Linked DNA regions of Homo sapiens. The protein of the gene in region 2 purifies or fractionates together with the protein of the main gene of each other region. This does not show direct contact. Each region holds a gene or a part of one and is shown on either strand. Other genes may lie near its edges.

Region 1 (3,500 bases), on a different chromosome or scaffold from region 2:
AACAGATGCTAGGGGTAACCCAGAGATCTTCTAAATAAGAAACCCAGAGAGGACTGATAGCCTTAAGTTTTCAAAAACAGTCATATCCCTTCTAAATTCAATAGAGGAATTTGGTACAGAAATTATTCCATTTCAAATAATTCAATCTTATCCTCTCTTTATAATATCAAATGCCAGAAGCATTCTTCATGTTATTTAAGTTTCATGTACTTTCCCTATAACCTGCTCCTTGGTCACACTTACCATTGGAGCAGAACGGCCCATCATAGGCTGAGAAGGCACAGTCACAGGTGACCCCCCTGCGTTTCTCTCTGCATCTCCCTCCATTGCGACACAAGTGTCCATAGGTGCTGCAGTGTCCTGCACACCCTGGCTCCACTCCTGGCGTCACTGTGGCTCTTTCTTCCAGATCCAGGGCCACCCCGTTCAACTGCAGAGACCGAATGCATCCTAGAAAGCCTCTCTGTCTGGTGGCCGTTCCACCTACAACGGAAACACTGCAAATAGAAATGTGTTCCTTGGTATTTTATTCAGGATTTTATGTCCATGTCAAACTCAGGCCTTATGGAGAGTGGCAATAATCACAATGTGTCAAAAAATTTTGTGAACATACACAATTTTGAAAATGTAACTGTTATGAGACATGAAGCTTTAAATGACATTGAATAAAACACTTATTTACATAACTTTCAAACATGGTGAGTCTGGCAAATAGTCCTAAAACATTTCCTTAACTTCAGGTAAGAAAGAATTTCACTTTAGTTCCTTCACAAAGAACAAAATACATAATATAAACCACATCAAACACTATTCTACTTTGTTTAGGAATAAGAATGTGTATTCATCAAACATTATTTTAATTTCTTTATGAATAAGAATGTGCATTATAATGGTTAGGTATGAACTTCCAAATTTTTCACAATAATAAAAATATATATGGATAATTTCTTACTTGGATGGACTCTAAAAATAAAGTGTGAAAGGAAATGGAGAGGCAAAGGAGGGGAAGTTGGAAGGGGTGACACCGTACCCCAGGATCTCCTCCTCTCAGAGGGTACAGTGCTAAACAGTAATTGAATACTGCATGCATGCACATTTTGTCATGTCAAACTTGAATGCTGAAGAAACCATTTAGAGAGGTTTACAACACCTGTGTAGTGACAAACACCATTATGAAGGCGACAATTCTCAATGTTAGGAGCATGGAAATTACCTAGAGTTTCTGGAAAATGCAGTTTTTAGCCTCCTCCCAGAGATTCCAATTCGGTGGGCCTAAGGTGGGGGCCCCAAATCTGAACTATCAATCAGCTTTGTGGGTGATTCTGAAGCCAGTGATTCATCCACCGCAATGAATGCTGATTCTAGGTGAATTTTACGCTAATTGTGTTTCTAGGCATTCCCTTAAATAATCTCCAAGATTACAAGTGAGAAAATCAAGTTCTTGGTTTGACCCCTCCGTGTAGTCCTCCTTTCCAGTAGTTTGATGGTTTCATGTCCTTTGAAAAAGCCTCACTGCACCTTAATAGAAGAGCTAACCACGCCTGAAGCTAGGTTTTAGGAAGTCATGGTATAACACCCCATCCACATCCACATACATACGTGGGTTCACGTGTAGCATTTAGTACCTGGAAGTTGTATCTACCCTTCCCTGTAAATTAGGTTGGATGATAATTTGTGATTTAGTCCAGTTTTAATTAGATTGCATCCTTATTCACTTTAAAACACTTAAGAAATGAACAAGTGAGAGCTTTAATCTGTGTAGCTCCTAAGTTAGAATAGTTTCAAAAGCAATATGGAAAAATAAACAACAGTGATAAAACAGTAAGTAAGCAAACTAAAGGAAAGACTTCCAGAGCTATCACCTTTAAATAAATGGAGTGCAAGAACAGATGAGCCAGACCAGGTTATAAACAAGGAGCCTGTGATGAGAGAGCCCCAGAAGTGAGAACAGCAGCGAGGAAAACCGGGAGTGGGCTCCTGGAAGCCTGGCCGCGGGGGAGGTGCGCAGTGCTGCTTCCAATCAGCGGGTATCCTGCGATCTGGTTTTGAGTGGACCCTGGAGGACTTCTGTCCCAATTACAAGCTCTCTAACTCCACCGAGAAGTGAAACTGAAGGAATGGATAAAAATGTCTAATGATCTCACTAATAGTGTTGATAAAATATAGCTGTCACATATGCCAATCCTCTGCAATGTGAATGGTTCAAGTTTGGGGGTCGGCTATCCTGGGATCCCTCTCATTAGCTGGTTACTCCACTTCTCTGAGGCTTGGCTATCTCATCTGTAAACAGATGACAATACCTAAACATTGATACCTAAACACTGAGATACTGCAGGGCCCGGTGGCTCGCGCCTGTAATCCCAGCACTTTGAGAGGCTGAGGTGGGTGGATCATCAGGTCAAGAGATCACGACCATCCTGGCCAACATGGTAAAACCGTGTCTCTATGAAAAATACAAAAATTAGCCAGGCGTGGTGGCACCTGCGCCTGTAATCCCAGCTACTCAGGAGGCTGAGGCAGGAGAATCGCTTGAACCCGGCAGGTGGAGGTTTCAGTGGGCTGAGATTGCACCACTGCACTCCAGCCTGGGCGACACAGTGAGACTCTGTCTGAAAACAAAAACAAAAACAAAAACAAACAAACAAAAAAAGAAATGTCAAATAAGAAGCACACAGCAAGCTCCTGGAACCTACCAGGTTATCAGCAAATAGTACCAATAAGCAGTAGTTGTTGTTGGCAACTGTTGCTCTCAGTACATCACAGTTCTTATTTTCTTTTGGTCCCTCTCTGGACTCACACTAAATTCAGTTATAAACCACCAGCACTCACCAATGAAGAGCTGGCTGTTGAGCTGTAAACGAACGTGCCCATCAGCAGGGGCAGGCTGCATCTTCTGAGGAAGCTGATCAACTTGAAGAGACGCTCCTTTAACATTTCTCTCTGCCCTCACGTGGTGCCACTGATTGTCATTAAAGGGAGTGGGTGACTGCACCGTGACCTCACAAGGTCCATTCCCCACATCGAAGGAAAAGGTCACTTCTGTGGGAGCTAGAAATATTAGATATGAATATTGCTCAAGCAAATTCACAGAAAATTGAGTCTTGTGCAGACACAGGAAAACATGAAGGCACGCTCAGGATGGAAGGAGATAATGACGGCGATGCAGAAAAACGGGACTGTGAGTTGGGGTGGGGGCAGAATAAATCTGTATCCTGGAGGAAAACAGAACGGATTTTAACATATTTATCCTCAGAGTTCACAATTCAACCTTGTTAAGTCCTAAATAGTAGAGATATGTACCCATAGCTGGACTACCCATAGCTATGTACCTATAGCTAGAATACCAAATAGTATTTGTTTTTGAGGTTTCAGTAATTTTATTTACAAACGGCTCAAAGTCTCATCTAATTCTATAAACACTGAATGTAAATTTTGACAGTCATAAATTAAGCTTTGGGTACATAAAAAACAATATGTCTGGTCAAATATTTTTGGAATTC
Region 2 (3,500 bases):
AGATAGTGGAAAGAGCACAGGGTGTAGACTAAGATAGGCCTGGATTCCTTTCTTTAATCTGTCAATGAAAGCAATGAATGTTCTGAAACTACATGGCAATGCTTTTTTTGTTGCCACTCTGGCTTTTTTTTTTAATGCTATAAAATATATGCCTATTTTTCACTGCCAAGAGGTGACAACACAATGATGCTGCAACCAGAGAAGACAGACAGCTACCAACAACTATTGACAAGACAGAAGGAACATCAAGAATAGATGCAAGACAAAGCAATGTATCTCCATGGCCTAGATTTTTTAGGTTATGCATAGAAACAGCAAGGAGAAGAAGACACAATCCAAGTTTTCTTTTGAGAATATTGTGCTGTTTAAATTTATTTTTTAAACATTTCTTAGCTTTTCTTATTAGTCAATTTCATAAGCCTGGGAAACATCTTTACTCTATCCATTTAATTGCATTTGTTCATTAGCTTACTCATTTCACTTATTAGTTCATTCAAACAGTAGCTATTATCAACTGTCTTCTAAGAACTGTAACTGGGTATTCTGGTTTTGCTTTTTTTTAAAAAATAGAATTAAAAGGATTTCCAAAAGGACCTGATTTTACATTAGAATTAGAATAATACATTTTAAATTAATGTATAACATATATTATTCTAGAATTAGAATAGATTTTAAATCACATTAGAATAATAGCCACATGACAAAAAAGAAAAGAAAAATAATAAAATTAATGACAAAGAAAAACAATAGTCATGTGAGAGGAAAGGCAAAGCCTAAATATTCCTCTGTCCTCTTCCTCCACCTAGATTCCCAGATGTAAGGTATTAAAAGTAGTTTGTAAACTTTCTGTGACGTATGCTGAGTCTATCCAAACTGTCGGGAATTGGAGCCTCCCGGGAACCAAACACTCCCCAAAGATCATACACCTACGGAGTTCCCCCAAGAGACACACAACTGCAGTTTCATGTAGGTTCACCTTTTCTCTCTTTTTATACTCTGTCCACACAAACCTGGCAGCCACGCAGTCAGTCCCTGCCCTGTGTCATTGTACTGGCCACAGCAACTTCTCTCTGTAAATGAGAAAGGTCTTGCTTTCAGAAAAGATCATGTTTGCAAACTACTCACTCTTGAGGAAGAAGGGTGGGAAAAGTAGCAGAGATGAGTGGGGAGATGGTGCATATAAGAAGGAGGAAAGAGGAGACTATGGAGTCAGGATGCCGGCTTGCTATTCTCAACACCTTTTTCCAGTGCCCAGTTCTTACCTTATTTCTCCTGCCCCTTGCTTTCTTTTCTAGGCACCTCTAAGATACTGATGGCTCTGCAGAGGACCCATTCATTGCTTCTGCTTTTGCTGCTGACCCTGCTGGGGCTGGGGCTGGTCCAGCCCTCCTATGGCCAGGATGGCATGTACCAGCGATTCCTGCGGCAACACGTGCACCCTGAGGAGACAGGTGGCAGTGATCGCTACTGCAACTTGATGATGCAAAGACGGAAGATGACTTTGTATCACTGCAAGCGCTTCAACACCTTCATCCATGAAGATATCTGGAACATTCGTAGTATCTGCAGCACCACCAATATCCAATGCAAGAACGGCAAGATGAACTGCCATGAGGGTGTAGTGAAGGTCACAGATTGCAGGGACACAGGAAGTTCCAGGGCACCCAACTGCAGATATCGGGCCATAGCGAGCACTAGACGTGTTGTCATTGCCTGTGAGGGTAACCCACAGGTGCCTGTGCACTTTGACGGTTAGATGCCACCATGTAGGGATTATCGCGAGTGGTTGACCTTACACTTACTCCTTAAATAGCAGTGAGTAATGCATTTGAGCTGTCCCAGGCTCTGTCTCCTCAGCTCATTTCCTACTCTTTTTCTCTATATAACTCATTCTATTAAATACATTGCACCAAAGAGATATGGAGACATAAACCTGTAATGAATGAGGCTGGGCTTTTCTGTAATAAGCTTCCTTTTATAATACTGGTCAGCTTAGCTCTCTCAGATCCTATCCTGTGGAATTTAGTTATTATGTGTATTTATGTAGTATTTCAAACATTTCAAAATGCTTTCATCTATGTTTATCACATTTTAATACCACAGCACTTATAATGATGTCACTACATATAGAAGCTCAAAGTTAAGGGATTTGCTGAAGACTGTAAAGTTAATGGAAGAATTGAGACAAAAATCCAGTGTAGCTGGCCACTTATCCAGGGCTTTTTCTACTTCATCACAAGGAATGTTTTGAAAGTGTCTGCTTTTTTTATCCTTAAAATTCACCTGTCAGGGAGGCATTAAAAATTTGGAAATGTATGCCAGCAAAATGTGAGCTCTGTATTTTTTGGCATTCTTATGTTTGGGTTTAATAAGATTAAGAAAATGATACTGGGAATTTTCTTTTTCCTGAAACTTTGAATCACCCTAGTAAGTCAAAGTACTAAAAAATGTACTAGATCATTAAGACTTATGTGCTCTTACTGATTGAAAGATTTTTTATGTTTTCCTTGTAATAAAGGACCTAAACCGAAGGTACCTGAGAAGACTGTGCTATGGTATTATTTTTTTTCTCTGACTTTTAAATTCTTGTTTAGTTTATAAACATGCATGCACCTTAATAACCTCATAAACTCTGGTCAAAGACTAATGCCTATCAGATCCATGACCACAACACAGAAGATTTGTCTCATTTACTCCAGAGAGAATGATTCCTCTCAAAGACAATTCTCACAGCTCTTCCTTCTCCCTTAGAATATTTAGAAGCAAATTAGGGAGCTGTCAGGTCTCTGAGCCCAAGCCTGCACGTATACATCCAGATGGCCTGAAGCAACTGAAGAACCACAAAAGAAGTGAAAATAACCAATTCCTGCCTTAACTGATGACATTCCACCACTGTGATTTGTTCCTGCCCCACCTTAACTGATCAATTAGCCTTGTGACATTCCTTCTCCTGGACAATTAGACTCAGGAGCTCCCCACCAGAGCACCTTGTGACCCCCGCCCCTGCCCGCTAGAGAATAACCCACTTTGACCGTAATTTCCCACTACCAACCCAAATCCTATAAAACTGCCCCACCCCATCTCCCTTTGCTGACTCCTTTTTTGGACTCAGTCTGCCTGCACCCAGGTGATTAAAAAGCTTTATTGCTCACACAAAGCCTGTTTGGTGGTCTCTTCACATGGACGCGTGTGGCATTTAGTGCCGAAGACCCAGAACAGGGGGACTCCTTCAGGAGACTGGTCCCCTGTCCTCGCCTTCACTCCATGAGGAGGTCCACCTATGACCTCAGGTCCTCAGACCAACCAGCCCAAGGAACATCTCACCCATTTCAAATTGGGTAAGCGGTCTTTTCACTGTCTTCTCCAGCCTCTCTTGCTACCCTTCAATCTCCCTGTCCTTCCAATTCCAGTTCTCTTTCCTCTCTAGTAGAGACAAAGGAGACGCATTTTATCCATGGACCCAAAACTCAGACACCAGTCACGGACTCGGGAAGATAGTC
Region 3 (3,500 bases), on a different chromosome or scaffold from region 2:
GATTAGAATATTAACCCTTTCCCCCAAAGATTATCTTTTGCGGCTTTATTTCATGCCTATCCTCCCTAATACATAGAATGGTGCTGCATTCGTTCTTATAGAAAATCTTTCTAAACTAAAAATGCAAATCTCTGTTGTAGCTTGTCGTTATTGCCACTACTACTCCCTCATTCAAGCCATCAACATCTTTTCCAGGATGAATTTGATAATCCCTGAACTGGATTCATCATTTCCCTTCTTGTCCTTCTTTTCAGACCAAGCATGATCTCTTTAAAAAGTAAGTTGCATCATTTTCACCTCTGATTAGACAGCCAGTAGCTGCTCAAAATCAGAACCAAACCCAAATGCCTCAATTTGATCTGCATGACCCTACCTGACCTAATCTGACTTCACTGTAAATATGGCTTTCTCTACTTCTGTTCTCTCCCAAACACACACAGTTTATTTCAGACAAAGTGACCTGCTTTCTTTAAAATACCAAAATCACAACTTCCTCTCAAGGGTTGCATAGAAAATTCCTCCCTCTAGATGACTCAGAGCTTGTCCCCTCTCGTCACTTAGTTTTACCAAATATGTCACTTACTCAACAAGGCCTTCTGCGATTATAACTACGACTCCCAATTGCATTGTCCTCAGTCACATTACATTATTTTTCTTTCTTTTTAGCAAGGATGTTATTTATTTATTTGTTTGCTGTTTCTGTCTCCTCTTGCACTAAAGCCCTATCAGCCCAGTTACATTGTCTACCTTGTTCACTTGCTTCATTCCAACCACGTAAAATAGTGATTACCACTTATTTGCTCATCTTTGTCAAATGAGTGAATAAACACATGAGTGATCACCAACTATATGAGTTGCTTCAAGGATCATGTGATTCAGCAAGAAAAAAAAAATTTGAATGAAAAGCGAAGGTATGCTGAAAATGTAAAGAGCTTCTTGCTATTAGTAACTCATATTAAGCAATTAATATAATTAATAAAATAATAGGTATTTATGTAATGCAATACATGATACGATGTGTTTTCACAGACATTACACTCTGTGCACTCACAGAACGTTAGGGTCATAGCTATGTTTATCTTCTCAGAATGGGTCGGAGCAATTTTCTGTAAAACTCTGGTGGTGTTTTCATAGACACCCAGATGAAAATACACACAAGGTAAAACCCTCATGCCCTTCATTACTTTATGTTCTCCTAGCAATGAGAATAGCAAAGGAAGTCAAAATGTGCTAAGATGTTGGTTCTTTCACTGTCAAGATTAATTTCTAAATATTTGACAAGATCACTAGCAAGTGAAAATAGGAAGAAAACGTGCTAGGAGAAGGAACTGTAGAATTGAGTGTAATACAACAACGGACAAAGAAGAAGGTTTAAGTTCTGAATATCTGATATATTTAGTATATCTAAATTCAACATTTAGATTTAGATATTCTAAATGTTGATCATGTTGGATAGTCATCAAATTTTCTTGCAAATAAGATTAGTGTGCTGTTGTATTACAGGACATCAATATAGTGCTCCTGAACTGCTAGTCTTTGTGTTAGAAATGACATCAATACAAGGGCGCTCAGCAAGAGTGCCTGAATTCTGAGTTAGTAATTCCATCTACAAATCTGATGTAGTTATTATGCTTAATGAAAATCTCAAAAATATGGATGCCCAGTGGGCACAATCTGTAGTGCTTTCACCTGATGAGGCAAGAATCTCACTCACGAGGTGGTGTCATTATCACTGTACTTCCAGATCTTAGTCATGAAAAAAATGCCTTAAAAGTTAATAGAGTTGGATAAAGTGGAATATTTCAATAAAGCACACTTGCTATTCTAACATTTTTGTCCCAATAAAAATATACCATTAAAAGCTTTGGAAATGCACAAAATGTCTTAGATAATCTAAAAACTGAATCATTTTTAAATCTCTATAATATCTATTTTAGCAAAAGTTTAAGGTTCTAATTAGCTCAGCTACTTGATCTGAGCAGTAGTGGACAGAAGCTTCAATAAATTCTGACTATCAAAGTTCTCTTTCTTGGCATTGTTTTTCTTCCTTTCCTTACACATCCTAGTTTCAAAAGAAAACAGATGATTCTAAACACATTTCGGTTATCAGCATTACACCTACAGCTTTTCTTTCTCACAAATATCTTAAGATATGCTAGGAACACACAAAGCAACCATAACTAAGTTTCATTTCTCCCCAAAACTCATTGTTAGTTATCTTTTCTCATTTTAAGAAGAAAGGGCTAAGATGACAAATCGTCATTAAAGAAAAACTCAGCGGTAGAAAAATTCTTAAGGAATTATATATTCGTATTTCTAAAGTTAAGCAGTCTTGGAAATCTTGAAGGATGTCAATGCAATGTGGAAAAGTTAGGAAGGGATGTCCTATTGATTGCAAGAATAAAACAAGAGACGATAGGTGGTACCTTGATCTTACCTAAAGAAGAAACATATTCTTTTGACTAAAATGAGGTCATGTTTCAACAATACCTGTCTTTGGTCTGAAGGCTAAGCCAGTCAGGACAATGAGGTGTATGCAACTCAGGAAGAGATGTCTGACTGTTAATAAGAATGTATTGTGAGATGAAATGTAATGTCGGTATCTTAGCAAGGCAACATGATCTATCTTCTTCAAGAAGTTTTTTTTTTTTTTTGGTTATTTTTCTCTTAACAAAGTTGGAAGAAATTGTATATGAAAAGGTACTTTCTCAACTTCTGTAAAGGATATAGTTATAATATTATTCATGTTTAAATGGAAACTTTTAAATACACAAGCTTATATCTGAGAAACTTTTATATACGAGCTTATATTTGAGAAAAATAAGATTAAACAAATGGATCTGTGGTACAAATGTATTAATCAAAATTAATTTTCTTTCTTTTCTAAAGGTAAAGACACCTTTGAAAAGCGTTACGTATTTACAACTATTCTGCAATATTTAAGAAGAAATCCCAAATGTAGACAATACATCATTATTAAACAAATATGAGTAGAGTTATTGAACAACAGAAAAACATGTTTTTTTTAATTTTAATTTTAGATTTGGGGGTACATGTGAAGGTTTGTTACATAGGTAAACATGTGTAACAAGGGTTTGTTGATCATATTATCTTACCACCCAGGTGTTAAGCCCAGTGCCCAATAGTTATCCTTTCTGCTCCTCTTCTTCCTCCCACCCTCCCCCTTGAGTAGACCCCAATCATGTTGAGACATGATTATTTCCAAAATGAACATTACTCTTTTCCACTAAGGATACTTACAAATTTGAAGTAATAGGGAATAAGATCAACAAATGGGTATACTCATTTATTTATTCATGCCATTGCATTTTTAAAAATCATAATTGGGTACCTAATTGTAGACTAAAACTAAGTTAATGTGACTGCATATGAAAATTATTATAGTCATATTTAAAAGAGCATTTAATCCTGTTGTCCAATTTATGAATGATTTCCACTATATATATTCTTTATTGAGAGAAAATCTTTGAAATCACATT

Evidence for each region. The genes of interacting proteins can lie anywhere in the genome.
Region 1: the proteins of RNASE4 (region 2) and CNTNAP3 purify together in Homo sapiens (affinity purification with mass spectrometry; one large-scale study listed by BioGRID and IntAct). This does not show direct contact.
Region 3: the proteins of RNASE4 (region 2) and LRP1B purify together in Homo sapiens (affinity purification with mass spectrometry; one large-scale study listed by BioGRID and IntAct). This does not show direct contact.

What each region holds. Positions count from the first base shown.
Region 1 is NC_000009.12:39,099,668-39,103,167, forward strand, and holds part of CNTNAP3 (contactin-associated protein-like 3 isoform 1 precursor), read right to left. Parts: intron 3,049-3,500; coding exon 2,830-3,048; intron 484-2,829; coding exon 244-483; intron 1-243.
Region 2 is NC_000014.9:20,698,060-20,701,559, forward strand, and holds the end of RNASE4 (ribonuclease 4 precursor), read left to right. Parts: intron 1-976; exon of another isoform or gene 977-1,070; intron 1,071-1,262; exon of another isoform or gene 1,263-1,295; 5' UTR 1,296-1,312; coding exon 1,313-1,756; 3' UTR 1,757-3,157; downstream 3,158-3,500.
Region 3 is NC_000002.12:142,121,017-142,124,516, forward strand, and holds part of LRP1B (low-density lipoprotein receptor-related protein 1B precursor), read right to left. Parts: intron 1-3,500. UniProt on the Homo sapiens protein: Potential cell surface proteins that bind and internalize ligands in the process of receptor-mediated endocytosis.